Regions from separate parts of the Homo sapiens genome. Here region 1 is linked to region 2. The links come from fine-mapping of genetic effects on gene expression. A gene starts in region 2. The other region holds a variant in brackets. All regions are shown on one strand. Distances are between the middles of the regions. Region 1 overlaps RANBP3 (RAN binding protein 3). Region 2 holds the start of RANBP3 (RAN binding protein 3).

Evidence for each region. PIP is the estimated chance that this variant, and not a neighbour inherited with it, causes the effect.
Region 1: its variant is the best candidate, but not a certain one, in a credible set for the expression of RANBP3 in whole blood (TOPMed, PIP 0.52).

Annotation. Positions count from the first base shown.
Region 1 is chr19:5,929,685-5,945,695 of GRCh38, forward strand. It overlaps RANBP3 (RAN binding protein 3), which reads right to left. Exons shown (of 17, transcript NM_007322.3): 4 at 12,115-12,151; 5 at 11,937-12,023; 6 at 3,730-3,795; 7 at 2,768-2,860; 8 at 1,720-1,847. Among named protein-coding and RNA genes, the nearest start is that of CAPS, 23 kb to the left of the region's middle. RefSeq lists a silencer at 10,090-10,270 and an enhancer at 14,794-15,434. The variant G/A (reference allele first, on the strand shown) is at 6,417.
Region 2 is chr19:5,971,367-5,987,377 of GRCh38, forward strand. It overlaps RANBP3 (RAN binding protein 3), which reads right to left and starts at 6,774. Exons shown (of 17, transcript NM_007322.3): 1 at 6,695-6,774. The coding sequence starts at 6,716. It overlaps RANBP3-DT (RANBP3 divergent transcript), which reads left to right and starts at 7,037. Exons shown (of 4, transcript NR_046376.1): 1 at 7,037-7,148. RefSeq lists silencers at 6,558-6,667, 6,898-7,067, 7,118-7,167.

The sequences.
Region 1 (16,011 bases), 42 kb before region 2:
GCCTCATAGCTCACGTTCCCGATGAGCAGTGTGTGCCATGTTCATGGGCGGCTTGGAAAAGCTCGGACTCCTGCTGTAGGGCCAGAGAAGGATACACACAGCGAGCCTGGCGAATCTCAACAGTACTGGGTGTGGTCAGAGGGCAGCGTGGGTGTGGCCGCATGGCTCCACCCCAGACCCACATGGAGCAGTGGCTTTGGAGCCAGACGCAGGAGCTGGGAATGGCAGCCAGCACATCACAACTTCTGAGCTCAACCATTTGGGAACAAGCTGTGTGCACTGCTGAGAAGGGGCTGGAACCGGCAGGAAGACGGACTCCGTCCCCTGGGATGGGACACAGCAAGGCCTCTCCAGTGAGGAACAAGCTCTCGGTAGCGGGTGCTACCAGGTCAGCCTGTGCACTCACCATCGGGGACAATCAGAGACACTGGGAGATGGCGGGACGGGCTGGGTCACTTCTAAGTCCTTCTCCAACTCAGAACTGCACACCTGATCTGCTCAGGAGACCTCAGCAGTCAAAGCTTCCAAGCCGCAGAATGCGGTGGAAATGATCCCTATTTCCAATTCAGCAAACTCGTTTGAAAAAGGGCGTGAGGATGTTTTCAAATTTAATTGTGGACAGCCATTTTCACCCTTTGAGCCAGAACATCTACTGGGGATGGAGGGTATAAAACTGCAGGCCATGGACACAGAGCGGAAAATAAACACAAAGATCCAATCTGGCTTTTACACAGAAGATACCACATGGTGTTACCCTAATTCTGACTTCAAACCCATCTCTGCCAACTTCAAAGGAGGCTCTTCATCAAAGGCCCTTATTTCACAGTGGCTGTGAAACACAAAGCTTTTGGCCCATATAATCCAAACCATACCCCCGCTTAAATGGAACTATTTCTTTTTTTAAGGCAGGGTCTGGCTCTGTCGTCCAGGCTGGAATGCAGTGGTGTGACCTCGGCTCACAGCAGCCTCCCCTTCCCGGGCTCAAGCAATCCTCCAGCCTCAGCATCCTGAGTAGCTGGGACTACAGGTACATGCTACCATGCCTGGCTAATCTGTGTATTTTTTGTAGAGACAGAGTCTTGCTATGTTGCCCAGGGTGGTTTTGAACTCCTGGCCTCAAGCAATCCACCTGCCGCGGCCTCCCAAAGTGCTGAGATTGCAGGTGTGAGCTACCGTGTCCGGCCTAAACAAACTATTTCTGAGATGACTCCCAAAGAAAAATTTTCAACTGGAACCACACAGATAGGAGTCTCTGAGGGGTGGTTTGGGTGTGGACACAGAGAGGGGAGACATTCCTCATGTTAAACATTGCAAGACACCCATCAGTGACAGCCGTTCCTCGGGCCCTAGTGACTCCTCAGAGTGCAGTGGTTCAGGTCCTCCCTCAAGGATCACTCCCGTGAGACATGTGGCGGTCAGCCTTGGGTAACAGGCCCTTCCGGCAGAACTCTGGGCAACAGGTCCTTCCGGCAGAGCTTGCTTGGGAGACACTCTTCTTCTGCCTGACCAGCAAGACCACCCTTGGGAATCTAGATCTGGTTTGTCAGGTACTGTTATTTAGAGCCTACTGAGCAAATCCAGAGAGCCTTACAATAGGCCCACGTGGAAACTGCTTGGAACAGGTGACAGCGTGTGGACTCCACAGCATGCTGGGAAGGCTGCCCTCCCGCTCCCAAGGGGCCTAGCATGCAGCGCTTCCCTGCCTCAGGACCCACTGACCTCAAGTGCACACACCTCATCGGCAGCTTCGGAAGGACTTCTCCATGCAGCAGTGTCAGGGGATGCTGCGGGCACTGCCCCCGTGCAGTCTGCTGGGAGGCTGACCCCGTTGGTGCCACTGCTGGGGACTGTGGGAGGGAAGGAGAGTGGGGAATCACAGGTGCTTGGCGGCCCTCCCACCCCCACTCACATAGCTGAGGGGCTGGGCCACGTCTAGTCTAGGGCCCCTCCCATGGTAAAGCCCACAGCACATGTCTCCTTTTTAAGGAAGGACCTGGTATCTCTACAAAGAGCCAAAATTCTTGGATTTAAAAAAAAACAAGAGAAACAAACAAAAAAGAGAAACCTGCCGGGCACAGTGGCTCATGTCTGTGGTCCCAGTGCTTTGGGAGGCTGAAGCGGGGAGAATGCTTGGGGCCAGGAGTTTGAGACCAGCCTGGGCAACACAGCAAGTCCTCGTTTCTAAAATAAGATAAAACAAACTGGCTGGGTGTGGTGGTGCACACTTGTGGTCCCAGCTACTTGGGAGGCTGAGGTGGGAGGATCGCTTGAGCCCAGGAGTTCGAGGCTGCAGTGAGCTATGATTGCACCAGTGCACTCCAGTCTGGGTGACAGAGCAAGACCCCATCTCCAAAATAAATAAATAAATAAATAAATAAAATGACCTTTCAAGTTTTTAAAGATAACCTGTGAAAATTGAGGCTGAAATTCTATCTGCAAACACACAGGGATAAATCTCATTCCCAGGAGCCGGCCTGCTTTTATGAAGACAGTGAATGAACAAAGCAGGTTTCACCCACACAGTCACACTCAGCCGAGAGCTGTGAGGAAGCTGTGGAGCCGCCTCTCCCTTCTCCGTTGCCAGGGCTCAGGAGGCTTGGGGCTGGAGACGGCTGGGGGGTGATTTAAAGGATCATCTTCCCTGATCTCTCTGTATTTCTGGTGCATTCAGCAGTCACCTCTGTCGCAACACTGCTGTCCCGGGTGCGACTTCGGGAACGCTCTACCCTGCCGTCTGGGCCTGGGCGCCAGGGCTGCTGTTTCTTACCAGTCTGGGACAGCGCCTTTGGCTGCGGAGCTTGTAACACTGCCGGGCGAAGCACGCTCCGCTGCTGCTCCTTGGGCTTCTGGCTTGGCAGACCTAGGAACAGAAGGCGGCCTTCCCAGTGCCCGTGGACCCCTGCCTGCCCCCAGGCGCTTCAGAGACTGACCCCTGGCATCCCATTTCATGCCCCTTGCAGGCTAGACTTTGCAGGGAAGCACTTTTTTAAAAACTTGAGGTCTTTTTTTAACAGCTGGCCAGGAGATCTGGCTACTGTTATTTTTACATGTGATTACATGAAACTCCCAGTGACCGACGCCTGTGAATTAATCCAGTTAGCACAGTAACGTGGCGGGGCGCCGGCAGACTCAACAGTCAAGTGGAGACTGTGGGAGGAGAGCAGTGCATTCACAGGCAGCTACCTGGAGGCTCAGGACTCGGTGTGGGGTCACGTACAGGCACATTTTGCACCTGTTTTTCAAAACAGCCATGCTGAGGAAGTCCCTCTGCCAAAGGCAGATGGGACAAGGACCCTTGCATGTGCCCTGCCCTGTGCAGCATCCCCGGCAGCCTCACTAGCAGCCGGCTCACTAGCAGCGCGCCGCTGGAATGCAGCCACCCTGCTAACTGGGGCGAACACTGTGGTATGTGGGGGCCAGAACATGAAGGACAGACAGGCTGAACCAAGTGCGCTACTGCTGGGCATGGAGCCCGCCCGATGCACCCCGCCTAGCCTGCTCCCGTGCCACCACTGCCCACTTTTCTGAACACACGACGCTCACAGTCAGGGGTCCCAACCTCCCTGCTCAGACAGCCTCTCTTTAAAGGAACTTTCCAGGGCTCGTGGGTCAAGTTACAAGTGATCTTTCTAGAAAGCAGGCTGAGCCCGCGGTGCCCTGGTGTGGCCTAGCAGAGGTCTGAAAAACGTCAGAGAGCCACCCCCCGCCCCAGGGAGGTAGACGACCTACCTGCGCTGGGGGCTTGGCCGTGGATCAGCGTTGGTGGCTTCAACCGGAAGCCACTGCTCCTTTCCTCTAAAAGCACAAGACAAAATATCAACAGCAGGCCTGCCTGGGCTGGGGCTGGGCCTGGGGGGCAAGGGCAGGAGAGGACTATGGTCTTGGCCTCAGTGACTTCGGGCCTGGAGAACCAGGGAGAACATTTCCAAATTACAACAGAAGTCTCGTCCGATCAGCAGGCCTGGAAGGCGCCTGGAGGAGGGGAGAGACAAGGGCAGGAGGAACGATGGCTCTTGGGCCAGCTGCTGACCATGGGGGCAGGTGGGGCGTCAGCCGCCCTCCCAGCTGTCTATGACCTGCTGCAGGCTCAGGAGCCGAGCTGCTCAGCGGCCCTGTACCTGGCTCTGGAGAATGTCAGGGAGCCACGGAACACAGGCGCTCAGGCCCCACTTCCCTTTCCTAGAAGGCTTGTCTGTCAGAGGATGCGGCTGTGGCCAGGAAGAACCTTGGCACCACTACAGATGTCTGGGAAGTGAGACAGGTTTTTGTGATGAAAAGGTCAAAGGTGGCACACAGTGAGCCTGCCTCCCCTTTCCAGATGTGCCTGCGGAGCTTCCCGTCTCAGTGAGGGGGCACTCCTGGCCACCGTGGAGGAGGCCAGCTCCCCCTGGGCCAGAGTCCGGGCTGACAAATTCACAAAACTAGAGGGAAAGGTGAATGCCCACGAGCTCCTGGGATGGCTCGAGAGCCCAGCCTCGCCCAGCCACCTGTCCACATGGACCCCTTCATCTGTGTGTCTTGGCAACTGTGCCCATACAGGGAGTGGGGATGGTGGTCTAATCTGATCCACAACAGGAAGGATTGTCATAAAAGGCCTGTGACTCAGGCAGGCAAGCCTGTTCCTGGGCAAGGCACAGAGACTGTGGCATTATGGCTCCTGGAGGTAGCCCTGCGTTTGTGCTAAGCTTCACCCCCTTGTCAAGCTACAGGACACAAGATCAATATACAAAAATCGATTGTGTTTCTAACACTAGCAGTGAATGACCCAAAAGCAAAATTAAGAAAATAATTCCATTTACAATAACACCAAAAGGAATAAAATACTTGGGAATACATTTCACAAGATAAAACTATAAAACAATGTTAGGGCCGGGTGCAGTGGCTCATGCCTGTAATCCCAGTGCTTTGGGAGGCTGAGGCAGGAGGACTGCATGAGCCCAAGAGTTTGAGATCAGCCTGGGCAACACTGCAAGACCCTAACTCTACAAAAAATTAAAAACTTAGCCAGGCATGGTGGTACATGCCTGTAGTCCCAGCTACTCAGGAGGCAGAGGTGGGAAGATCACTTGAGCCTGGGAGCTTGAGGTTACAGTTGAGTTACGACTGTACCACTGCACTCCAGCCTGGGCGACAGAGTGAGACCTTGTCTCAAACAAAACAAAAACATTGTTGGAAGAAATTAAAGGTGTAAATCAAAAGAAAAACACCCCCTCATGCTGTCTGATTGCATTTCTGTGAAATGCCAGACTAAGCAGAAAGGAGCTGAGCGGTTACCAGGGCTCAAGGGAGGGGGTTGGGGGCAGGCTGTGACTAACAGGGATGAGGTTTCTTTTTGGGATGATGGAAATGTTCTAAAATTAATCACGTGATGGTCGCACAACTCTGTGGATGTACTAAAACCACTCAATTGTACACTAAAACGATGACAACAAAACCCAAAACACCTTGTCAGCCCAAATTTTCAGACTCCAAATCAAGATTCAGCAGGCCAAGGAAGACCCCTCTCCCGCTGTGCCCCGGAGGCGCCGCTGTGCCTGGGCAGCAAGAGGATTGCAGCAACCCTTCTTACTATAATAGTTGTATGAGGGAGTCCAGCCCCAGGGGCTTCTGGCAGCCTGTGTTAGCAGAGCTGGTGCCTCTCCCGTAACAGACTGGTCATAAAAAAACAAACTCAGGAGAGCCAGATCCTGCAGGATGCGGGGGTGAGCCGCCAGATGTTCCTTTTCCGAAGGAAACACTCAATTACATTTCCAAAGCACGGAGCTATGCAGAAGACGACTGGCAATTTAGATACATTTTTAAAAGGTCAAATTCACAATTTAGATAGTTTTTAGCAAGCTCTTCAAGCTGGCTCTCCACGCTGATGTTTTGGTCACAGACTGACTACTGCCCTTCCACACTCCGCTCCGTGCAGCGCTGGCGCTAACGCTGAGGGGAGCCTGGGGGCTGGCCCGAGCTGCCAAGCGGAAGCAGGAGACTTGGATAATCCCTGCCACCGACCTGCCACTAGTGCTAGGCCCAGAGCGTGGCCCTCTCCAGAGCTGCAGACAGACAAGGCGTGCTCCAGGGGTAGCCAAAATCTGGAGGTCCCTGTCACAGGCCCTGCTCCACGAAAACAAGGGTGGTCTCTTCTCATTCCTTCCAGAAATTTTCTTCTGCAACACAGGTCGCAACACAAGCTGCTGAATCATGGCCAGAGCCCGACGCCTGCCACATACCCAAAGGGTGTGGGCCTGTAGAGGATGCTGCACCAGTCTCTGAGGGATGCGCATCACTCCAGAGAGGAAGAGGACCCCTCCCGCCGGCAGCCTTTGCCCTCCTGGGAAGCTGGCAGGCTCCCTGTCTGAGGGTGCTTTTCGCCTGCCTCAGAGAGCCCCAAGTGATGTCTGTGGGAAGCCATGCTTGCCCCCCAGGGA[G/A]CCCCGATTTAACCAGGGAAGGGATGGGAATGAGACTGTGTGCATCAAATGCTGAGAAGGCAGCCTGGCTGGAGCTGGGGTCTGTGCGTGGACGGCGCTGGTGCAGGGTGGGGAGGAGGCTCAGCCATGCGGTGGGCAGGGAGTGATGCCTGATGCACAGAGGACAGAGGGTGCCGGTTTCTTAGTGCCAGAAGAGGGAGGAATATACCAAGGGAGGCACCCACGTGCCCCTGGCGTCATCTCCACATGCAGGCAGGCAGGCAGAAAGTAAGAGATCATGTGGACAAAGGTGTGTCCCCAGCTCTGTCCGTCATCTCCACATGCAGGCAGGCAGGCAGGCAGAGAGTAAGAGATCATGTGGACAAAGGTGTGTCCCCAGCTCTGTCCGCGGAGGGCCGGGAGCAGGGCTACACCTGAGTCAGTGAGATCGCAGTACCGCACGGAGTGATTTCAGACCTTGGTTTCTAAAGACCATGTTCCCTGAAGAACCAGCGTGCCTCTGAGAAATGCAGATTCCAGGACTGGGATGAGAAAAGAGGCTGAGCCGGGAGGCTCTTGTTGTGACAAAGTAAGGGCAGTGCTCAAATGAACAACGGGGACCTGCCTGACAGGGCTTCCACTGGCCAAATCTGGGACAACCTGAACATTAAATAAAAACCAGTAACCATAGACGGTCACCCACTGATGCCAACAGAAGCTCGCCTGTCTATGTTGACACAATCGATCAAGGAACAAGCACGTGGGGAGAAGGGCAAGCTCCTCCTTCCAGTGAACACCACTAATCAACGCGGCAGGGATGGTGCTCAGAGTATCCCACGGGTGGTGAGTGCCTGTAATCCCAGCTACTTGAGAGGCTGAGGCTTGAGAATCTCTTGAGCTCAGGAGGCAGAGGGTGCAGTGAGCCAAGATTGTGCCACTGCACTCCAGCCTGGGCAACAGAGCAAGACTCTGTCTCCAAAAAAAAAAAAAAAAAAAAAAAAAAAAGGAAGAAAATCCCATGGGGCAGTCGTCAGCGGGAAACATCACTCTAAAGACATCACTGGGCGCGAACACTGGAGGGCAGGAGTGTGATGAGGTACACACAGTCCCAGAGTCTAAAGTGTCTCTCAGAAACCATCCAGCACAAAGGGGAAAGTAGCTTTACAGTGGTGAAACCTGGCAGACAGCACCCTGATCGAGGAGCACGGCCACCCCGTGCTGGTAAGGGGACAAGTGAGTACTGTGCATGGCTTCTGTGACATTCTCATCCAAGATGCCACACCTGGGTCTCACCACCAGGACATACTGGACAGGCCCCAACTGAGACACTTCTACCCAACAGCTGACCTGTAATCCTCAAGGTCATGAAAGTCAAGGGAAGCCTGAAGACCTGTTCCCGATAAAAGTGGAGGTATGTGTGGTAGGACCAGGGTCTCAGTCCTTTTTTCTAATGGACTCATGGAGCTGACTGGAGAAAGCTAAATGGGGTCTTCAGACAAAAGGGACAGAGAAATTCTTCTGTAAGTGTTAAAGCTTTTCAAAATTAAAGCTAAAAAACAGAAGGCAGGCAGACAAGGATGTGAAGTTGGGTTTGCAGAACTGATGTGTGGCTGATATGACTGCCTTTTCATGCGTGAGGGCACTGGGGCTTTAAACCATGCCGCGTCGGGGCCTGCGAAACAGCTGCCCTGCTCGAGGCTGGAGGGGAAAGGTCTGTGGGGAGAGAGACAGGAGGGAGGCCGTTGCTCACAGACCTCAGAAGCGATCATGAGATTTGTAACAGAGCTCAGCAGCACAAATGGGTCCAGACACACGGCTTTAGTAACTGATCACCTAAAGCAGAACCTGCCTCACCGTGGCAGGCTCTGTGCCCCCATCCAGACCACCACCTGCTAAGCGACACCCCAGGAATAACCAACATCGTGCCCTTCCTGAGGACCCTGAAACACCAAGCCCCTCTGCAGGATGAGACCAGGTGGTCGGCTCAAAACAGTTTGCTTTTAGAGTCAAAATGCCTTGTTGAAACGGGGCCATCAACTCAATGCTGAGAGTTATAAGAACCCACCTCTTCCCTTGACACGGACATCACGCCAGCAGCTAACTTATCTCACAATGCTTTTGAAGTCGGCAATGAATTTATATATGGTAGGTTGGGTTACAGAATTCAGGTTGTTAAACTCGCTTGTTAAATCTTTTATGAGGAATTTCAGCCACGTGGGAGAAACTTTCAGGAAACCTTGGAGTTGGTTCTCCAGTGAAAGACCAAAAAGGCAGGCTCCATATTCTTCAGAAAGGGGGAGCGGCTTTCCTTAAAATTTTAAAGCTGGGGGCCAGACGTGGTGGCTCACGCCTGTAATCCTAGCACTTTGGGAGGCTGAGGCGGGAAGCTCGCTTGAGGTCAGGAGTTCGAGACCAGCCTGGCCAACACGGTGAAACCCTCGTCTCTACTAAAAATACAAAACATTAGCTGGGCATGGTGGCACATGCCTGTAATCCCAGCTACTTGGGAGGCTGAGGCAGGAGAATTGCTTGAACCCAGGAGGCAGAGGTTGCAGTGAGCCAAGATCGCCCCATTGCACTCCAGCCTGGGGGACAAGAGTGAAACTCCGTCTCCAAAACACACAAAAAGTTTTGAAGCTGTGATTAAACATATTTATCTAGGTAGGTCTGAGCAAAATTAATGTGAGAATGCACAAAAAAGAGGTCTAGAAATTCACCAACTTCACAGGCGTTACCTTTGGGATGGCAGGGTGAGTGGGGAAGGGGCAGGGATTCTTTTTAGTTGAAATATTTCTGATTTACTTTAAAGAAAAAACAATTATGGGCCAGGTGCGGTGGCTCATGCCTGTAATTCCAGTACTTTGGGAGGCCGAGACAGGTGCATCACCTGAGGTCAGGAGTTGGAGACCAGCCTGGCCAACAGGTGAAACCCTGTCTCTACTAAAAAAATACAAAATTACCCCGGCATTGTGGTGTGCGCCTGTAATCCCAGCTACTCGGGAAGCTGAGGCAGCAGAATCACTTGAACCCGGGAGGCGGAGGTTGCAGTGAGTTGAGATCACACCACTGCACTCCAGCCTGGGCAAAAAGAGTGAAAGTCTGTCTAAAAAACCAAAAAACCCCAATTATGAATGCATTACTTGTATAAAATTTTGAAAAATGAGTGATACATTTCTTCACAGGTTGTTTTTAGAGGACTTAGAGCTCCATGCAACCAGGCCCTGCTTGCAGAAACAAACATGAGGGCTTATGAAGCCTCATCTCACGCCAGATCCCCAGACTATGAGCTGAAGAGTTGGGGGAAAAATTTTAACAGCTGAAGAAGAACTGACTTTAAATGCCCGCTGAAGATCTGATTTTCCCACACCAATTGCTTTTCCTCCCAGGAGAACCCCCAGGCCGGGCGGGAAGGCAGAGGGGCCGGGGCTCACTTGGCTCTGAGTCGGAATTGCCTGCAGATGGCTCGCAGAAGCTTGATGGCATAAAAACATTGTTTTTTGAAACTGTTGACAAGGAGGTGCAGGCGGGGGAGGGAACAAGAGGAAAAACAGCATGAATGGGTGGGGTGGACGCTCAGAGATCACCTCTCCCACCTGAGGGGTGGATTCTCACGTCCCACGGGAGGAGACGGAACAGCACGCAAACAGGGCATTCAGTCTTTCCCGAGAACAGCAAACCCCAAGACTCTTTACAGCACTACGAGGGTCTCCAGCCCGACGGCCTTGATCTGTCTGATGACTACAGTCAACTCTGGTCAACTGGGGGCACCCCCTTGTCCCTGCACCTCTGCAGGGGCAGCCGGCAGGGGAGATATCAGATGCTCCAGGCCACATTGGAGGCCCTGACTCCTCCTCACCTGTCAAGGCTTGTCCATGGGGTTCCCCCTCCCCCACCTAAGATCTTCCTTCACCAGGGCAACTGCTTCCCAGGGTGTGGGCCAGCCAACAGGTTTCCACAAATGAAGTGGAATTCGTAGGGGAAGAACTCACTCTACGCAGAATGGAACCAAAGACAACACTGTTCAAATTATTGGTGCCCCTCACGCCTCCAGTTACCCTGGAGAGCTGAGTGTCTCTTGGGGGCTGCTGCGCTGGACGGGAGGTGATTTGAAGAGGGCCGGGGAGAAGAATGGTGGTCCCTCGCCTCTTTAGCCTACATTCACAGCCCAAACACCTCCTCTTCTCTATGCTGGTTTTCGATACAGCAAGCATGGTTCAGCAGTGGGCAGTGAGGGGGAAGGAATAAAATCAACGAGCAGGAAGTGGAGCTCCCTCATTCCACAGAACACCTATCCACAGGTGCAAAGATCCTTAAATTAAAAGGATGCCAACTGCAGCCTGGACTGCAAGCCATCTGGACAGTTCCGCAATATCCAGTCAGCAGATGACAGTGTAATAGCACTGGAAAACCTAATGCAGCTGTGCAAAAAGACGCGGCCATGTCCAAAACCAACGTGATGGGAAAAGGGCATGAAAACAAGGGTGTGGAGGGGTGACTTGGGAAGGACCCTGGCTTCCTACGCTGTGTGTTCCTGTAACGCATGCGTGACTTCTGTAAGCAGAAACAACTTGACATCCTGAAGGTTCAGGACTGTAAAATGATTTACATGAACTTTCCAGGAATGGATTTCAGTTGGGTAACCAGAGAACCTGTCTAAACACTCATGTATGTCCAAGTTGGCACTACAGACAGCTAAGACAGAGGCCACGAGACAATGCCAGAGTGGGAAGTCAAGACGGGGACGAGAGAATAGCCCTGCAGTGGCATTTACCCTCAAATCTGCAGAGTTGTGCCCATGGCAGGAGGCCGGGCTTTCTGAGTGTTATATTAAGTAGTGCTGACGGCATTATCTGCCTCAGGAACCTCTCTCCTGTACCAGCCTGCATGAGTCCCCAGGCCGACCTCCAGGCCTGTGCTCAGACCAGGCCTCACGTCCAGGGCCTTCAAGCCCTTTAGCCTGCCCTGCTCCACAGTCCGAGCCTGGCCCACCCTTCCAGGCCCCCGCAAGCTCCTCTCCTCTGGGAGTTCACAGCATCACACACGGGCCTCTGCTGGGGCCTCCTGGCTTGCTGGTTACCGTGTGTGTGTGCATGCTTGTGTGTACATGCGTGTGTGTGTCTGGGCTACTGCACTGGACTGCCCGTGCTGGGCATGCAGCTGAGGGGTTGGGAGAACACCCCACCCCTAAACCCCCAGTCTGTGTCCAGCCTTGGAAAGAGGAGATGTAATTAACAGGCAGAGGCCCCAACAGGGCTCTCAGTAGTCAACCCCTTTCCTCCATTTCAGAGGGACGATCTCTTCACAGTCTTCCTCAGGCCACCAAGTCTCACCATGCCGTCAGTGTCACTGATTCGAGACGAGGACCCCTGATGCTGCACTCTGGACAAGCTCTCACCTCACTCCTGACAGAGCCCGAGCCTCAGATCGACTCTAACCGGAGCTGGGCAGGAAGGACACAGCAGACGGATGCGCGGCACTGAGGGGAATGGCGGGTTTGTAAGCATAAACGCTTTCACCATTCCGTAAGTTTGCATATTTTACCTGACTGTGAGGGTGGGAACTGGGTTAAAGAGGATGTTCTTTCTCGCTTGACAGGAGGGCAGTAATTTCCATCTTCTCTGTCAGAATCTACAGAAAATGATGAGAAGAGGAGGAGAAAAATCAGGTTGCTTCTGTCTTTAAAACTGAAGATGGTCAAAGGTGTTAGAGAGCTCCTTACCTTCTCCGCCTTCAGGACTGGAGCCGCCAGCTGACCTCTGAAACAAGGAGCACACAGCCGGGGTCAGAGGGCATCAGGCTCACGGCAGCCGAGCAACTCTCGGGGCCGTAACAAATATCCCAACATGCACCACGGGCAGCTAGTTCCCAGAGCCCAGCACCCGAATGAGAGCCAGGATTTTAGCCTAAAGCTCAAACATCCCCCCGATGAACCTCTGCACCCAGCTTCACAAACACATGCCAAGGAATCCTCTCAGTGGCTGGGAAAGCATCCGCAGCACCCAGATCAGTTTCTTGTTTCTCCACAGGTTACGCTAACTGGCCTGCCACCCCTAAACTCAAACACAGCCGAACCTCATCTGGCCCCCGTTCATTCTGCCAAGAGCTGAAAAGCGACCCTCTCCACCCTTGAGGGCAGCGGACTTGTGTAAAATGGTCACATCACACCGGATAGGAGCGATTTCCCTTCCTTGCCCTGGAACATTCTACCATGCACATGCTTGTCTCAGGGTCGGCTGTTATTCCCAGAGCAAGCAAGAGCTTGGATGTTTTGGACCAAAGCCCACTTGCGAAGTGTTTAGAACAGAACCATCAAAGACAAAGCCCAGTCACAGGCTGAGGGAAGGCTCCTGAAGAATTCCCTATTCCACAAACTTTAGCTTTAGAGTGTGAACAACCAGCAACCAAGACTTAAAATGGGCTCATGACCAGCCTGACCAACATGGTGAAACCCTGTCTCCACTAAAAATACAAAAAAAAGTAGCTGGGCGTGGTGGTGCACGCCTGTAATCTCAGCTACAGGCTGAGGCACAAGAATCGCTTGAGCCCGGTAGGCGGAGCTTGCAGTGAGCCGAGATCACACCACTGCACTCCAGCCTGGGCGACACAGCGAGACTCTGTCTCAAAAAAAAAAAAAAAAAAAACAAAAGGACTTAAAATGGACTGGGTGCAGTGGCTCATGCCTGTAATCCCAGCACTTTGGGAAGCTGAGGCAGAAGGATCGCTTGAGCCCAGGAGTTTGAGACCAGCCTGGGAAACATGGTGAGACTCTGTCTTTATAAAAAACCCAACCACATAAAAATCAGCTGGGCAGGGGGGTGAATGCCTGTAGCCCCAGCTCCCAGGGAGGCTGAGGCAGGAGGATCACCTGAGCCCGGGGTCTGAGGCTGCAGTGAGCTATGACCATGCCACTGCACCCCAGCCTGAAGGACACATCTCATCTCAAAACACAAACAAACTCAAAACTTAACATGAGGAGTGTTTATCCTCTCCCCCAACACAATCCCTCATTTATGTCCTGTCTCAGAATTTAGCAGCCCAAAGCGCACCGATGAGTGAGGGCCGCTCCTCCTGGCGCGCTCCCTGCAAGAGCAAGCAGAAAAGCCAATTTTCTTATTTTCTAAAATGCTCCTCAGAGGTCAAGTTTAGCCAAATGAGGCCCGCCTGCCTCGACGAGCTGCTGGGGCTTAGGGGAGGTGATGCATGTGAAAGTGCTTTGCAAACTGCAGAGTGGCCTGGGAAAGCAAACTGCAATAAATAAAACTGAGGAGCACAGGAGCCAAGGCAGACCCCCCTCAAGTCAGGGCGATGCATTTTCCCATAAAGGGCCAGACTGTCGGTACTGCTGGCTTTGTGGGCCACATTTGGTCTCTGTCATATATTCTTGTTTTTGCTTTTATAATCCTTTAAAAATGTAAACATCATCTTAGCTTACAGGCCCAGGCCTGGAGCTTGTGGCAGTGAGAGCCCAGAGAAGGTAGGAAGTTGACTTGAAGTCACATAGCTCGTTCACGACGGTCAGAAAAAAAGCTACCCTGGACTTTCTCCTCCCGTGTGAGCTGACAACATGGGTTTGTGTGGGAAAAGCAAGCCTGGGCTTCTTGCTTGAGGCCCGTGTTCTGAGGGGGCTTTGGAAATGCTCCCAAGGGACTGTACGAGTGAGGGCTGATTATCACTATCCCCACGAGATGACATCATCAAAGTGTGTGGGAAACACAAAATCCTTGTAACACAACAGTGGGTTCTATTAGTCACTGGGGCAATTGTGAAAATACCACTGAGTCCAAAACGCAATGCCATCAAGCAGCCAGGCCCTAGAGTCAGTACCAACTCCGGCCAGGCCAAAAGCACGAGGGGTGCAGAGGCTGCCTGGTCCCTGCTGCCTCTTGAAGGCCGGAAGAACTCAGTGTATTCCGGCTCTGCCATTTTCTACGGGTGAAACCTTACCTTGCCCAGCCTTCGGTCTCCTCACCTGGAAAACAGGGATGCGTGAGGTGACAGGCAGGGCAGGTAAGGTGCTCAGCCCAGTGCCCTGCACGCTGGGAGCAGATGATTATAATGCTCGTGACCCACACCTGATGAGATCAAACTCCCAACCGATGTAAAATCTGGAGGCTACGCTGGGGGCAGGGCTTTAGAGCTCAAGGCAGGCATGAATAGGGAGTCAGGGGTGTGGAGTGAGTCCTGGGTGCAGCCAGGAGGCGAGGGACCTGGACTGGGAACCTTTCTAGAAATGCCAGAGCCTGGGGTTGCATCTGATAGTGCTGAGCTGTCACCACCTTGTCATCCCTTTTCTTGGGTGACATCTGTGGGGTGGGTACAGGCTCCAGCTATCGCTTGCCCTCATACTTAGCAAAGGTGACAGAAGTACAGAGAAGCAGCATCTGCCCACCCGGGCAGCCAAAACCTTTGCTCATCCAGCCAAGCCTGGGCATCTCATGCCTGGGGCAGCTACTGCCCTCGACGGGCCCTTACATCAGCCTCCCAGCACAGGCAGCTGTGAGAAACAACACCTGACACAGCCTCCTTGCCCTCTGGGTAACCCATGCCCTCCAGAGCCCTGTAGGCTGGCTTTGGCCTCCAAATGCTCTGTGCAGGTCACTGTCTGAGGCCAGCAGCCTCTGCACAGCCCGATCTCCTCGGACACCGCACTGCTCGCCTCACCTCTGGCTTCCCTGGCCTCACCAGTCCTCCCATCCATTCCTAACAGCAGGCCCAGGACATCCCCACCCCCAAGTCCCATCCTGTGGCTCTAGACTTTTCTCTCCCCTTTTAATCCAACGAGCCTTTCAACTGTACCAAAACCCTTACACGGTGTCCTCCCTGGTCCTGGGGGATCTGTCCCTTCCTAAATGACTTCTGGGACCAGGAGATGGCCATACCCTCTCTGGCCTCTGTAGACGACCTGCTCTCTCATCCAGTGACGCCCTCCTTTTCCCTCAAGCGAGAATGAACCCCTTGGTGAGGTGACCTCCAGGCCCCTTATACTCTTTCTCTGTGGCTTATTCTGATCCTGGGAGTTGTGTCAGGGACTCCACTAGACTTAGGAAGGAACTGGACCTCACAGTAGAAGCCCGTTTAGCATTTGTTCAACAAAAGACACTGCATCCCAGGCCCCTTGCAGGCCACGGAGAAGCCGAAGACCTGAGTCCGGCCTTACAGAAGGAACTGGTCCCCGAGCTCCCTCGTGTCTCCTCACCCCTGCACGGGATGTTTCTCCTGACATCTCCACACCTAACTCTCTGGCTCAGTGGTTATCTAGGTTAATTTCCACATGTGTCAATTTCCTAGTTTCCGTTTTTGATTTCCAATTTTATCTCCTTGTGGTTGGAGCACATACTCCATATTTTGATCCTTTAAAATTTGAGATGTGTTTGGTGACCTAACAAATGGCCCCCCATGGAGAATTTTCCATGTGCACTTGAGAAGGCTGTGTACCCCACTGTTTGGGTGGGGTGACCTATATGTCTGTTAGGTCTGCTTGGTTTTTGTGTTGCTGAAGTCCTGTTTCCTTACTGATCTTGTCTAGATGTTCTATCCATTACTCAAAGTGTGGTACCGAAGCCTCCAACTCTTACGGTTGACTCGACTATTTCTCCCTTCAGTTCTGTCCGTTTTT
Region 2 (16,011 bases):
TTGCCCAGGCTGGCTTTGAACTCCTGGGCTCAAGAGATCCTCCCACCTCAGCCTCCCAAGTAGCTGGGACTGCAGGTGTTTGCCACTGTGCCCGGCCTGAATTCTCTTATCTGCTTCTATAGTTCATCTGTTGGCATATCACACATCCAATAACCTCTGGAAAAAAACTCCACTGTCCATTTTCAAGTGAATAAGAGTGAAAAAAGAGCAGATAGTGTCTTTGTGTTGTTATGAAATAGTTTTGAACTTGCAGTCCCCTTGAAAAGGTCTTGGGGACTGCAGGGCCCCGGACCATCTTTGAGAACTGCTGCCATATGCTATCTGAGTTCTAGCATTCCAAGGACACTAAATCCTAAATTACAGACCATGAGGTGCTTTATGCTAAGGTTCTAGCTAAAGAGCACTCTAAGTGTAGAGAATGCAGAGTCTAGGAGTCTGTATAATAGGATTGAAACCCAAATACCAACCAAGGTCACAGGCACTGGAAGAGAAGGAAGTGGGCTAGGCCCCAAGTAACATGGCGGAGACCACAATATCCAATCTAATCTATCCACAGGCGCAGCTGTTCCTTAGCACTGAAAAATCACTGCTGTGCAAGAATGCAGGCCAAGGGTGGTTGCTGTTTTCTGAGAGAAATCAGAAATACAATTTTTTTCCCCTCTGAAATCTCAGAATTTTAAGTGTTGGCTCCTAATTACAAACAAAAACCTAAATGGGCCAAATTAAATATGTCTGCTTGCCCTTCAGGCAAGTTTGCAACTTCTGCCTGTGGTTTTCAACTCTGGCTTCATGTTGTTAAACATCTGTGGAGCTCTTTAAAACCACAGACACCCTAGAACTCCTGGAACCATCTCCAATGGTGCAGCCCAGGCAGCAGTTTTGATTTTCCCTGACAACCTCCTTAAACAAGTGTGAAGCCCATCCAGGGCTGAGATCCATAGCTAGTGCTGTGTGGCAGCTCTAAGTGCCAAGACTACTGAGGAGGAAGCAAACTGTGGACATGTGGAAGGTGGTGGTGAGGAGCTTTACCCTGATGTCCCAGGCCACGTTATTCTCTACTGCGTAGGGCAGAGTCAAACAGAACACCGCTCCACCAGGACCCCCTAAAACAAAGAAAACATCACCACCAGACCCTGAATAGATAATGATGCAAGCCCAACTGCCTCACGATTGCTTCAAAGTACCATGGAGAGCTACCAAATGCCCAGCCAAGCCAATACCAGCCATCTCGGCAGTTTTGTGGTCCTCTGGTAAGTTTTGAGGAACGGCGCTCTCTTCTCAGATTCCCCAAATGCATCTCAACTTTCCCCAAATGGCCTTCGTCTCCCACTACACCCAGGCCTATTCACTGTCTGAACTCACGTAGGAGGGCAGAATTCAACCCCCCTTCTCCACCCCAAGCTCCTCCAAATGCCACTCGAAGCTCACCCCATTCCTGCTGCTTCTGCTCACTCTGACCACCTCAGAGGAGGAGCACACACCAGACCCAGGTTGACCCTAACACCTAATGAATGCACGAGGGTGCCGGGAAAATCCCATTTTCTGGTAAACGGAGAGGCAGGCTGAAGGCTTGTTTGAAACATTTTGCAGAAGCCCAGTGAGGGCTTTTCTGTCTATACGCAGGATCCTGGGCAAAATGGAAAGTCTCTTCAAAGAGTATAAAGATTTTGCAGCCTGGATACCCCTTGGGTACCATCAGGCCCCTTCTGCTACAGATACAGGAGGCACAGTGGAGGTGAAAGCACACATTCTGCTCTAAGCAAAAATCCCAGAATTAGTTTTTATAATAAATTCACGAGAAACTTTCCAAAAGTTGTTTAAGATAGGTTCCAACTATTTCAGTTCTAGCTAACCAATAAAAATTCAGTTGCATCTCACCCTCTCAGGGGCTAGGTTTTAAGTCAACAAGGTGCAAGCTGAGAGAAGCCAAACCACCCTCAAAAATCTCTCGACTCATACCTGGTCAGGCTTTTAAATCAGTAGTTCTCAACTGAAAGCAACTCTGCCCCCGGGGGGACACTGGGACGGAGACATTTCCACTGTCATGACTGGCGGGGATGAGGAGGGGGATGTGCTATTAGCATTTAGTGGGGTAGAGGCCAGGGATCCTCATTAAGATCCTACAGTGCACAGCGCAATCGCCCACAACAGAGAATTACCTGGCCCCAGATGTCTGTAGTGCTCAGGCTGGGATCCCTGAGATCACTAAGTGACAGGCAGGACAGAACTTAGGAGGACCCAGAGCCCAGGCCCTGCTGGTCTTCTGCCAGGGGCTCAGCCCAGGGCCAACTCTGAGTGGGGCAGGTTCACCCACACAATGGAGACTTTGCTGAACCCTTCAGCTGAATGTGTCCAGAGCAGAGTGCACTGTAGTAAAAACAGTGACCTGAGTGTTTATTACTATGAGCAGAGACTGGTGCTAAACAATGTATGTGCACTCATTCCTTCAATGCTCACAGCAACCACGAGGTGGGTGTGGTTACCATTATTCCCATTTTATTGGTGTGGAAACGGGGGGCTCAAAGAGGTTAAGAAATTTGCCCCAAATGACTCAGAGTGGACAGCGGAGTTAAAACACAAACCCAGCTCTCTGAGGACCAAAGCCTGTGTCCCCACCATCGATACCAGTGAGTCTCTCACCTGGGGGCGATTCTGCAGCCTCCCCACCCCCACTCCCCAGGGGCTGTGTCAGGAGACTTCTTCTGTTGTCATGACGACCCCGCGAGTGAGGGGAGGTGTGTGCTACTGGCATCTAGTGAGTAGGTCCAAGGATGCTACCGTGCTGCTAAGGATCCTGCAACGCACAGGACAGCCCCTCCCGCCAAAGAGAGCCATCAAAACGTCAACTGCACCACACAAAGGTGAGAGCCCTGCTTCACACTGTCTCCCGGGTTTCCACCACGCATGTCCACAGGCCAACAGGGCCTTTCATGTCAGGATCTAGAATCCAAGATTCCCTGGAGTTCAAATGTGCTTTGCTCACCCTCTTTCCAGTCTTCTTTACCTTTGCCAGGGACAAAACTCTGCCTTCAAATCCTGATGTCAGCCTACAATGCAGCATAACCCTAGAGACAGGATGAGTAATGAGTCTGGGAGGTATCAATGGGGAAATGCCAAGCAGGGGAGACTTATCCCTGGATGCAAGGGTGAAACATGCACACACACTGTCTGAGAGGAAAAGCACTCAGGTGGACTTTAAAAGTCCCAGACCACAGGAAGGGCTGTGAGAGTTGCTGTCACCATCCATGAGGCGTTCACCATGGTGACGAGGGCCAACAAGATGCTTTACACAACAGAAAACATTTCCTCGTATACAAGCAGAGGACACCTACCCTCTACTACTCAAACCAGCGGGTCTCAACCCTGCCTGCACATGAGAATCACCTGTGCTGCCACCTGTACAGAGGCCCAGAACCCACCCAACACCAGAGAGAATCGGAATCTGCAGGGCGTGGCGACTGAGCATCTGCGGTTTCAGGAAAGTTCCCCAGGGGGTACTGATGCCCAGCCGGGTGGACAGCCGCTGCTCAGCCTGACACAGAGGTGGGACTGGCCCAGAGAAGAGAGATGGCAAATGGATGGAGGAGGGACTGGGTGTGAGGGTGGAGCAACTTATGATCTCAGTCTGGAAAGGCAGAAGCCAAGAGGGCATTTGACTAGAGCTTAAACAGCAAGAACAAACACGTGACCATGGGGCAGCCCCTAAAGCTTCAAAAGGCACAGGCAAGGAGGCCCCACTTTACACAGTGAATAACAAATTAAACATCCTGGCAGGCTGTACAAGCCAAAACCAGAAATGGAGTGTTCAAGAAACACACAATGACTGATTGAAGGACGGCAGGGATATATGAGGCACAAAGTCCACCAAGATTTGATTTCCTGAGGACAGTTATCCCAGAACTAGCGTCAGGGACAACGTGCTAGGTGAGTGTGGCACTTACTAGGGAAAAAAAGTGAAGTTCAAAACATTCCATTTCTCTCTTTGGCCCTTACCAGTTCAACTATCCCATTTACAACCAATAGCTCATGTGGACAGCATATGCTAGAAACAGTATCCCCTGGAAAAGGGCAAGCCATAATTTCCCCTTTGTGCTCAAATGTATTCCTCACAACAGGGTCCTCACTGGTGAATTCATTCATTCATGCATTCATTCATTCAACCAATATTTCCTGTGTACCTACTCTGTGCCAGGCACCGTTCTAGATGCAAGGGGGCAATCAGTGATCATAACATAAAAATCCCTGACCTCATGGAGCTTACATGGGGCAAACATGCATGTAATATCTAGCATGCCGGATTGTTAAGAGCTATACAGGAAAATCAAGCAGGGTGAACGGAATAGAGAACATGGATTTAATTTGAAATAGGTGGCCAGAGAAGCTCTCATTAATAAAGTAACATATATGAGTAAAAACCAGAAGAAGTGAGCCATGGGGGTATCTGGGGGAAAACTGTTTCAGTTAGAGGAATCAGCAGGAGAAAAGGCTAAAAGCGGGGAGTGTATGCAACATTCAAGGAAAACTGAAAAAGCCAGAGTAGTTAGCACAGAGCAAGGCAGCAGAGAGTGGCGAGAGAGAAGGACAGGGACATATTGGGGCCCACTATGGGCTGAGAAGTTCTCAGATGGGTAAGGGTGGAGGGAACGGGGGCTAAGCATTGACGGTGTTGGTGGGGAGAAGTGGTGGTCCCCCTTTGGGAATAATTTTAAGGTAGAAATGATAGTATTTGCTGTGCAGTATGAGAAAGAGGGAAACCAGGGGTGACTTCAAGGTTTGGGGCCAGAAGAATTCAAAGAATGGACCTGCCTAACTAACTACAATGGGTGAAAGACCATGGGATGGGCAGGTGTAGTGGGGGAGATAAGGATTTTGTTTTGGAAACGCTCTAGACTTACCTATGACACATCCAAATGGAGATGTCGAAATGTGATGCTGGACATGAGTCCTGAGTTCAAGAAGCTATGTGGGCTCAGGATGTAAATACATAAAATATGTCATACTGATTCCCACTTACCCAGTCCCTCTGTAACTAGATCTCATGAGTTGGAATGCTGCAACCCTCCATGGGCTCCTTTATCTTAAAAAAAGAGATGTAGCAGCCGGGTGCGGTGGCTCACGCCTGTAATCCCAGCACTTTGGGAGGCCGAGGCGGGCAGATCACGAGGTCAGGAGATGGAGACCATCCTGGCCAACATGGTGAAACCCCGTCTGTACTAAAAACACAAAAATTAGCTGGGTGTGGTGGTGCGCGCCTGTAATCCCAGCTACTCGGGAGGCTGAGGCAGGAGAATCACCTGAACCCGGGAGGCGGAGATTGCAGTGAGCCGAGATGGCGCCACTGCACTCCAGCCTGGCTACAGAGCTAGACTCCGTCCCAAAAAATAAAATAGAATAAAATGGCCAAGAATCAGGGAGAGAACCTGTGCTGCTGCCTGTACAGATGCCCAGCGCCCGCCCAACACCACACAGAATCAGAATCTGCAGGGACTGAGCACCCGTGGTCTGGCATCTGAAGCCAGGCCATCTTGGTTCACATCCCTGCTCCTTCCCAGCTGTGTGACACGCCTTGGATAAGCGACTTAACCACGTTGACTCAGTCTCCTCATCAAGTGAATGGGGCTAACAGTATCTATACCTCCTACCAGGGAAAACAGTATGTCAAGACTTTGCACCACACCTGGTAACTACCCTAAATGCTCCACAAGACCAAGCACTTCCTATCATCATTCATTCATTACTGCAATTCGGTAGGGAAAACCCTCCAGTCACAGGGAGCACCGAATGGGGGAATCAGAGCCAGACAGGTAGAGAGCTTGCCTGCATTTGTGCAACTAGAAAAGGGGGGGAGCTAAAAATAGGCCTCAGAAGTCTTGAAGCTACAGCGATGGCAACACGACTATGGATGGAAGCAGACATCAGCCTTATGGTGCCTTCTCGGGGGATCTGGAAGTGTAACCTTGTCAAAAACACTCAGGTGGGCTGTCAGCGCTCCACAGAGGAGGGACTCGCACGGTCTCTTGTCTGGAAGTGCAGCAAAAAGGGCCAAAGAGCAGCCAGGGTTTTCGGCGGCCCAGATCCTGCGGCGGGGCCTAAATGAGGGGGAGACGAAGCGCCCCGAAGGATCCGGGGGGAACTGGCGGGAAGTGGGGGCCGAAGTTCGGGGCGGGGACGGGGTGAAAACGGCCTGGGCTTCCTCCGTCCGCGGTGTGCGGCTGGCCCGCGGAGGACGAGGGCCTCACGGGCTTAGGAGATAGGCAGCCAGGCCGGGGAAGGGGAGATGCCGGGTGGCGGAGGACGAGGGGGCGGGGAGGGAGCGTGGCGCGCTCCGGGCCACAACCAGGCCCTAAGGTCTATTTACATCCGTGGCCGAAGCACTGGGGCCGCGCCTCCCGCCCCCTTCAGCCCCGAGCTTGGCTGCGACGCAGAGGGGCCTTAGGGCTGCGATCCCGATGGCCACCCGGCTCCTCTAGCCAGACGGCTGCAGTGGCTGGGGTTGCCGGGAGTGATGGGCCGGGCCGGTGAGCCCGGCCTGAGGGGACGCAATAGGGGGCGGCTGCAAGGCCCGCCACGGCGCTAGCCTGGAGCGGACGAAACCCTTGCACTCTGCGGTGCTCCCCCCAAGGGCTTGTGGCCCCTAGTCCTCCCGCCGCCCGTTCCCCGGCCGCCAGCCGGTCCCCAACGGCGCCTCCCCTACCTTCGTTCGCCAGGTCCGCCATTTTACTTCCTTAAGCCCTCCCACAAGGCCCCGCGCCGGCCCAGGCTCGCCTGCTTTCTGCCAGAAACTCCCGCGCGTGCGCACTTAACAAGCCGACTCCGTGTGAGGCGGCCAGCTCGCGCCTGCGCGCTGAATGCCGCGCGGAGGCGAGCCCCGGATCGCCTGCCCTGCAGAGCAGCCTGCCCTGACGAGCCGCGCTCCTAGCACGCACCTGCGCACGAGCCATCTCCCGCCTCCTTTTCCCGCCGACTGAGAGGGCGGGGAAAGGGCCGGGAAGGGCGCATGCGCAGTGGCAGCGACTAAGGTTTAGTGAGGCGGCACCGCGCGGCCCGAGGCGGGTCTTGAAGCACTCGTTTTCCCACTCGTTTTCCGGGGTTCCCCCGCGGTGGGACAGTGAGCAGTTCAGGGCGCCGCAGCCGAGGCCTTCCTCCAGGTAAATCGCCGGGCCTGCGGGGGCTTCCCACACGCGCGGGCGGGAGACGCGTTGCCTCCTACCTCAGTTTACCCGCCTTAGGAGCCGGTACCTTCGGCAAACGCTTTCCTGAAACCACGGGGGAAGTGGCGAGAGGGCGCGGGGTGCTTGGGATTGGGGGGTAAATCAGAGCTCATCGGCGGGGGCGGGGGTCGTGGTCAGGCTCTAGGAGGGGGCGCAGCCCTGGGACCCAGGTGCTGGCGTTGGGGGCGGGGGGAGCCGGCGCGAGGGACTCGACCCCTCGGAGCTACGAGAATCAACTTCACAAGCTCATGGGAGGGGAACCGCGCGCCTCCAGGTTACCCATCTGTAAAATGGGACCATCAGCCTCACTCACAAGGCTCATGGGAGGGTCCTGGACACCCTGGAGTTGTTCTCTACTCACCTGCTATGAATCTCTCAGCAAATCCTTCGGACTTGGCCTTGCCTCCAAAATACAGCCCAGAGCCACCCATTGTCACCCCCAGGCTGTCACCACCCTAGGCCACATCGTCCGTATCTATCTCATGGAAGACTTGGACAGCGGCCTCTCTGCTATCCTTTGCTGCATTCTTTTGAAGCCCCAGGCTTGGTTCTGCACATGGCCGCAGGCTGAGGAGTCTTTGAAAAATATAATCAGCCAGACGCGGTAGCTCACCCCTGGAATCCCAGCACTGCGGGAGGCCAAGGTGGGAGGATCGCTTGAGCTCAGTTCAAAACCAGCCTAGGCAACAGAGCAAGACCCCATCTCTACAAAAACACAAAAATTACCCGGATGTGGTGGTGCAAGCCTGTGGTCCCAGCTACTTGGGAGGCTGAGGCAGGAGGATCACTTGAGCCCAGGAGGTTGAGGCTGCAGTGAGCTGTGACAGTGCCACTGCCACCATCCTAGGGACACAGCAAGAACCTCCCCCATATATATACACATATATACTTTGTTTTTATCTATATATATACACACAGATATATACATACACGTGTGCATATATATGTGTGTGTGTGTATATATATATATATACACATAGACTGAAAATGGAAATATCAAGGCCACTCAGTGCTTCCAGAGGGCTCTCAGCTGAACTTGGAATATCCTAAACCTTGTATTCAGGTTTATGAAGTCCCCTGAACTTGGCTCCCATGCCCTGCTTTGTTCCCCCTTGCTCATTGCTGTTCAGCCGCGTGGGTCTTTCCATCCTTGGAGCACAAGCTCATTCCAACCTAAGGGTCTTTGCACTTGGTCGTCTCTCTGCCTGGGACCTTGTGTTTCAGGTCTTACCTAGGTTGGAGTCCCAGCTCTGCACCTTTTTGAGTATGATCTAAAAGAGAGCGAGGAGTACTACAATCTGTGGGCCAGATATAGTCTATGAGCTAAAAATGGTTCCTCCCTCCCTCCCCTTGTTCCCTCCCTCCCTTTCCTTCCCTTCCCTTTCTTTTATTTATTTTGGAATCTAACTCTGTTGCCCACGCTGGAGTGCAGTGGTACAATTTCGACTCACTACAACCTCCGCCTCCCGGGTTGAAGTGATTCTCCTGCCTCAGCCTTCTGAGTAGCTGGCATTACAGCTGTGTACTACTATACCCAGCTAGTTTTTGTGTTTTTTTGTGGAGACAGGGTTTCACCATGTTGGCCAGGCTGCTCTCGAACTTCTGACCTCAGGTGCTCTGCCCACCTTGGCTTCCCAAAGTGCTGGGATTACAGGCATGAGCCACCGCGCCTGCCGATTTTTTTACATTTTTAGCTGGTTGGGAAAAAAAATACCAAAAGAAGAATATCTATTGATGTGAAAATGGTGTGAAATTTACATTTCAGTGTCTGTAAATAAAGTTTTATTTGAAAACAGCCAATGCTTACTCATTTATATATTGTCTCTGGCTACTTTTGAGCTGTGACATTAGAGCTAATTTTTTTTTTTAACAGAAACTTTTTGGCCAACAAAACTTAAAGCATTTACTGTTTGTGTCTTTACAGAAAAAGTTTGCCAGTTCCTAATCCAGGACACATGTATTTACATGGTTGTTAAACTTTTCTGAACAGCCAGTGGGATGTGGTAAATATTTAACAGCAGCTTCTCTGGAAGAGAATGTATTCGTTAGTATGTATTTATGTGTGTGTATATAGTTTATTGTAAATTTTACTTATTTTTCTATCACTTTCTTAAGACCACAAGACAATTAATAAAACAAATTGAACCCTGTTTTGTAGCGTCTGCTGATTTTCTGGGTGTGAATCCTTCAGCCATGGCCTATATTGTTACTAATGGGATGTCACTAGCACCAGAGTTGGGAGGACATGCGCAGTAGTAGCACACCAGATTCTTTTTTTTTTTTTTTTTTTTCTTTTGAGGCAGAGTCTCGCTTTGTTGCCCAGGCTGGAGTGCAGTGGCGCGATCTCAGCTCACTGCAACCTCTGCCTCCCGGGTTCAAGCGATTCTCCTGCCTTAGCGTCCCCAGTAGCTGGGATTACAGGCGCTCACCACCATGCCTGGCTAATCTTTGTATTTTCAGTAGAGACTGGGTTTCACCATGTTGGCCAGGCTGGTTTCGAACTCCTGACCTCAAGTGATCCACCCACCTCGACCTCCCAAAGTGTTGGGATTACAGGTGTGAGCCACTGTGCCCGGCCACACACCAGATTTTTTTCAAGAACCTGACTTTCAGCCGGGCGCGGTGGCTCACGCCTGTAATCCCAGCACTTTGTGAGGCTGAGGCAGGTGGATCACGAGATCAGGAGTTCAAAATCAGCCTGGCCAGCACAGTGAAGCCCCGTCTCTACTAAAAATACAAAAAATTAGCCGGGTGTGGTGGCAGGCGCCTGCAATCCAGCTACTCGGGAGGCTGAGGCAGGAGAATCACTCGAACCCGAGAGGTGGAGGTTTCAGCGAGCTGAGATCGCACCACTGCACTCCAGCCTGGGCAACAGATGAGACTCTGTCTCAACAACAACAACAACAACAAAAACCTGCTACTTTCTCAGTGTGTCCCCACACCAGCAGCATCAGCATGACCTGGAAGCTTATTAGAAATACACAATCTGGGCTGGGTGCGGTAGCTCACGCCTGTAATCCCAGGACTTTGGGAGGCCAAGGCGGGTGAATACTTGAGGTCAGGAGTTCAAGACCAGCCTGACCAACATGGTGAAACCCCGTCTGTACTAAAAAAATAAGAAATTAGCCAGGTGTGGTGGTACACGTCTGTAATCCCAGCTACTTGGGAGACTGAGGCAGGAGAATTGCTTGAACCCAGGAGGCGGAGGTTGCAGTGAGCCAAGATCACACCATTGCACTCCAGCCTGGGCGACAGAGTGAGACTGTCTCAAAAAAAAAAAAAAAAAAAATACACAATATGGCCAGGCGTGGTGGCTTACACCTGTAATCCCATCACTTTGGGAGGCTGAAGTGGGCAGATTGCTTGAGCCCAGGAGTTCAAGACCAGTCTGGGCAACATGGTGAGATCCTGTCTCTGCAAAAAATTAGCTAGTTGTGGTGGTGTTCACGTGTAGTCCCCAGCTACTCAGGAGGATGAAGTGGGAGGATGGCTTGAGCCCAGGCGTTGCAGGCTGCAGTGAGGTAGGATGGCACGACTGCACTCCAGGCTGGGCTACGGATTGTGACCTTGTCTCTAAAGAAAACGGTTAATTTGAAACTTCACACCTGTAATCCCAGCACTTCGGGAGGCTGAGGCAGGCAGATCACATGAGCCCAGGAGTTCAAGACCAGCCTGAGTGGGCAACATGGCAAAACCCTGTCTCTGCCAAAAATAGAAAAAATTAGCCAGGCGTGGTGGCACACACCTGTAGTCCCAGCTACTCAGGAGGCTGAGGTGGGAGGATTGCTTGAGTGCGGGAGACGGTGGCTGGAGTGAGCTGAGATCACGCCGCTGCATTCCAGCCTGGGCAACAGAGTGAGACTGCGTCTCGAAAAAAACCAAAGAAAGAAATTCTCTAAGAGTAGCTCGAATGTCAGTCCCCCTGGTCACCCACAGTGTGTAGAATTCAGGTCATCTGTCATTCCTGGGGTGTTGGTTTCATTATTTTCAGGTTTCCCCAAACTTCTCTTGGGTAGGTCTTCTCAGCCTTTACCATATCTGCACGGTGTGACCTTTCATGAACTTGATACTTTTCTTTTTTTTTTTTTTTTTTTTTTTGAGACGGAGTCTCGCTCTGTCGCCCAGGCTGGAGTGCAGTGGCGGGATCTCGGCTCACTGCAAGCTCCGCCTCCCGGGTTCACGCCATTCTCCTGCCTCAGCCTCCCAAGTAGCTGGGACTACAGGCGCCCGCCACTACGCCCGGCTAATTTTTTGTATTTTTAGTAGAGACAGGGTTTCACCGTTTTAGCCGGGATGGTCTCGATCTCCTGACCTCGTGATCCGCCCGCCTCGGCCTCCCAAAGTGCTGGGATTACAGGCATGAGCCACCGCGCCCGGCCGATACTTTTCTTTTGGTTTAAATTTACATTAAACAGATACTTCGTATCACCGTTTAAAATGGAAAACCACTAAGCCATGAGTAGACCATTGTAAAAGCAAACATGAAAATGAAACAATGTTTTCACATTCAAAGTAGATACTGTCGCCTGCCAAGGTGTTGGGCCTGCTTTTTCTTTGATACAAAGGGAGATTAGCAAAGTATTAGAGCGTTATTGAAGAGGCTTCAGCACTTGGCGGAAACTTCCTTCCTGATGTGATGAGAAGGAGTGAAAGAGAATTGAAAACGGGCTAACATAATCTATGTTATTCATTGTCGTTTAACGCCATGTCTACATGTCGCCTAAAGTCATGTCACACACCACATTCATCCCACACTTTGGGAAACTCGCAGCACCATGTCATCACTTGCTAAATAGAATCCAGTCGTGGCTTTTCAGGGGACACTGAGACACGCAAAACCTGTCAGGCTGATGAGCCAAGGACGTTTCCAGTGGTTTCGCAAGCCTCCTCCAAGTGTTGATGGCTGCCAGCTTTCCTCATCTGGCCTCTCGTAGCAAATTAACTTAGTCAACATTCACTTACACAAATATTTGTCAGTTGCCTACTGTGGTAGCTTTAAAATATGGCCCCAAATTCGTTGACCCTTTTCCCAGCAAGAGAGGAGGGTGCAGCTCCCTTCCCTTGAATGTAGGTGGGCTTGCTGATCAATAGAGCACACAGGAAATGACACCGTGTAACTGACGACGCTAGGACATAACGGACAGAGATGCAGCTTCTGCAGCATTGCTGGAACAGTCTCTCTGAAAGCTTTTGGCCACCATGTGAGCAGTCCAACTGCCCTGCGGCTGCCATGCTGTAAGGAAGCTGAAACACAGATCTCATGGCAAGGCCCTGGCCAAGAGATGCCCAGCCAAACCCCAACAGCTCCTGCGGCAGCCGCTGACTGTAATTGCATGAGAGACCCTGAGCCCCGTCAGAACCACCCAGCCTAGCCCTTCCCATTCCTCACCCACAGAAACTACGAAAGATAAAGAATTGCCATTATCAGCCACTAAGCTTTAGGGATGTTCATTACACAGTAGTATGTATCCACCACACCTATGAGGCATCAGGCACATGTTGGATTCCCGGGATGAACTAGACAGGCCCTGACTTCACGGAGATTTGCAGCCTTTTGTGGGGAGACTAACAGTAGACAGGTAAGCAAAATAATTTGAGATAGTGATGGGTGCTACAAAGAAAATAAAACAGCATGCTATGACACAGTGACAGAAAGAGGGAATACTTTTTGTTTGCTTGTTTGTTTTGAGATGGAGTCTCACTGTGTCTCCCAAGCTGGAGTGCAGTGGCAGGATCTCGGCTCGCTGCAACCTCTGCCTCCCGGGTTCAAGCGATTCTCCTGCCTCAGCCTCCCGAGTAGCTGGGATTACAGGCGCCTACCACCATGCCCAGCTAATGTTTGTATTTTTAGTAGAGACGGGGTTTCACCATGTTGGCCAGGCTGGTCTCAAACTCCTGACCTCAAGTGATCCTCCTGCCTCAGCCTCCCAAAGTGCTGGGATTACAGGCGTGAGCCACCACGCCCAGCTGAGGGAATAATTTCACATGGTAAGGAGCTCGGTGTGGCTAGAGCCGAGTGACCAAAAAGAGAGGTGGTGGAGATGAGCTCAGGGAGGGAGCGTGCAGGGCCTTGGAGGCTGCAGTGAGGAGTTAGGGTTTTCTCCTAATTGCAGGGGTTGGAGGCAGGAAATGGGAGGGCTTCAAATGACTTGCCCTTAACTGCTGATTGGCCTCTGTGCTGTCAGCTTCCTCCTTGGCTCACCAGGATACAGGTCTCTGAGGAGCCTCTGAACCCAGGCTGAGCTCTGAAGACTTATGTCCCTCTCTCCTCTGCAGCCAAAGAGGACGATGGCTTCTGCAGCTGGGCTTCAGGAAAAGGGGTCTTCACAGCTGCAATTAAGTTTTCATCTTCCCATCATGGGCAGGGAGCCAGCATGTGTTTTTATGGAGCAAAAGGAGCTTTGCTGTCTGACGCGCTAGGAGCCAATGCTAGGACATGGGTTTGTGAGAAAAGCTTTTTATTGCAAGTTGACTAACAAGCAGATGGGAGTCCAACTCAAAGCTGTCTCCCCGTGCTAGCTTTAAGACCATACTTTTTGCGTGTGTGGAGATGGGGTCTGGCTATGTTGCCCAGGCTGGTCTCAAACTCTTGGCATCGAGCAATCCTCTTCCCTCTGCCTCCCAAAGGGCTGGGATTGTAGGCCTGAGACACCACGCCCACCCTAAGGCAGTCAATACCTTTATTAGAAGAGGTGTAGGGGGTAGACTGTGGCATTAGTAGGTAGGTGACTGGTAGAAAGGAATAGGAAGTCTGGAAAGTCCTCTGGCATGCGCAGTTATCTCTTCATCCCTCATGGAGCGCATGTGCAAGTTCGGGGGGCATTAGTCTAAACCATGCGGTAGAAATTGAGGCTATGACATCAGCAAGCTCGTTCTGTGCAAACTCCAGTCCGCCATATTGTTCCAACTGACTTCAGCCAGTTTTGTTATCTTACAAGCAGAGGGAGTTTCAGTAAGTTGTTTCTTTTCTTATCCAGCAAACTCAGGAATTTCTATTAGTCATAGGTTTCTTTAACTCCTGGGGCAGTGCTTCAGTGCCTGCTCTGTGCCCAGCCCACACTGAGGTTGAGTACCCAGAGATCAATCAAGTATAATTCCTGCCCTTAAGGAGCTTGGAGCCAGGTGGGGTTGGAGGGACTTCATCATGAATGCGTTATTAGTTCATCTGCCTTCCCCGTTCTCCCTCAACCCACGGCCTCAAGTTCCTGACAACAGGATGTCGGATGTGACCAATGGTGGCCCCTTGCCCATGATGGCAGGAACCCCTGACCCAAACTAGGCACATCAGCCAGGGATTTGGGACTGGAATTGCTTCTCTCTGGAAGAAAGCTGGGCTGGATCCTGTTAACATGGGGTAGGGCCACATTCTCCTTCACATGACCTGATCTGCAACCAGGTCAGCCGTGCTGAGAGGTGGAGAGCCCAGAGTGCCACAGCCGGGTTCCCAAGCCTTCACTTTGCTCGGTGACACATTCCTATCTCCTGATCAACTCTGCTTTTTCTCCTCCTCCTCCTCCTCCTCCTCCTCCTTCTTTTGTTGAGATGGAGTCTCCCTCTGTCACCCAGGCTGGAGTGCAGTGGCATAATCTCTGCTCACTGCAACCTCCACCTCCCGGGTTCAAGCAATTCTCCTGCCTCAGTATCCCGAGTAGCTGGGATTACAGGTGCCCGCCACCACGCCCGGCTAATTTTTGTATTTTTAGTAGAGACTGGGTTTCACTATGTTGGTCACGCTGGTCTTGAACTCCTGACCTAAAGTGATCTGCCCACCTTGGCCAGGCTGGTCTCGAACTCCTGACCTCAAGTGATCTGCCCGCCCAAAGTGCTGGGATTACAGGCATGAGTCGCGGCACCCAGCCTCTTTATTTTAAATTAAATAAATTAAATTTTACAATAAATACATTTGAAATAAATTCAGACTTAAAAAAAGTTGCAAAAATAGTACAAAGAGTTCCATATAGCCTCCATCAGCTTCCTCAGATATTCACATCCTGATCAAAATCAGGACATTCGCACTGATACAGTACTATTCACTAATGTGCAAGCCTTATTCACATTTCCTCTGTTCAGCTCTAGTGTCCCTTTTCTGTTCCAGGATTTAGTCCTGGATCCTGTCTTGCATGTAGGTATTTCTCCTTAGTTTCCTTTAGTCTGGATCATTTCCTCCATTTTTTATATACCTTTTCTTGACAACGACATTTCTAACGAGTACTGCCCAATCATTTGGTAGAATGCCCCTTAACTTTGGGTTTGTTTGATGTTTCCTCACAGTGAAACTCAGGTTAAGTGTTTTTGGCAGGGATTACGCAGAAGCGATGTGTGTCTGTGTCAATGCATCCTAGCAAGGGCACATGATGGCGATTTATACCTTTTTTTTTTTTTTTTTTTTTTTGAGACAGAGTCTCTCACTGTTGCCCAGGCTGGAGTGCAATGGTGCAATCTTGGCTCACTGCAACCTCTGCCTACCAGGTTCAAGCGATTCTCATGCATCAGCCTCCTGAGTAGCTGGGACTACAGGTGCGCACCACCACGCCAGGCCAATTTTTGTATTATTAGTAGAGATGGAGTTTCACCATGTTGGCCAGGCTGGTCTTGAACTTGTGACCTCAAGTGATCTGCCTGCCTTGGCCTCCCAAAGTGTTGAGATTACAGACGTGAGCCACCGCGCCCGTCCAATCGCTTGCTTTAAATGGTATCTGCCAGGTGACTTTTTCCCATTGTTATGTTGGGGGGATATTTTGGGCCTTTGTAAACAAATAGGAAATATTCGAGGAAGAGAAGGGGAGGAGGAGAAGGGAAG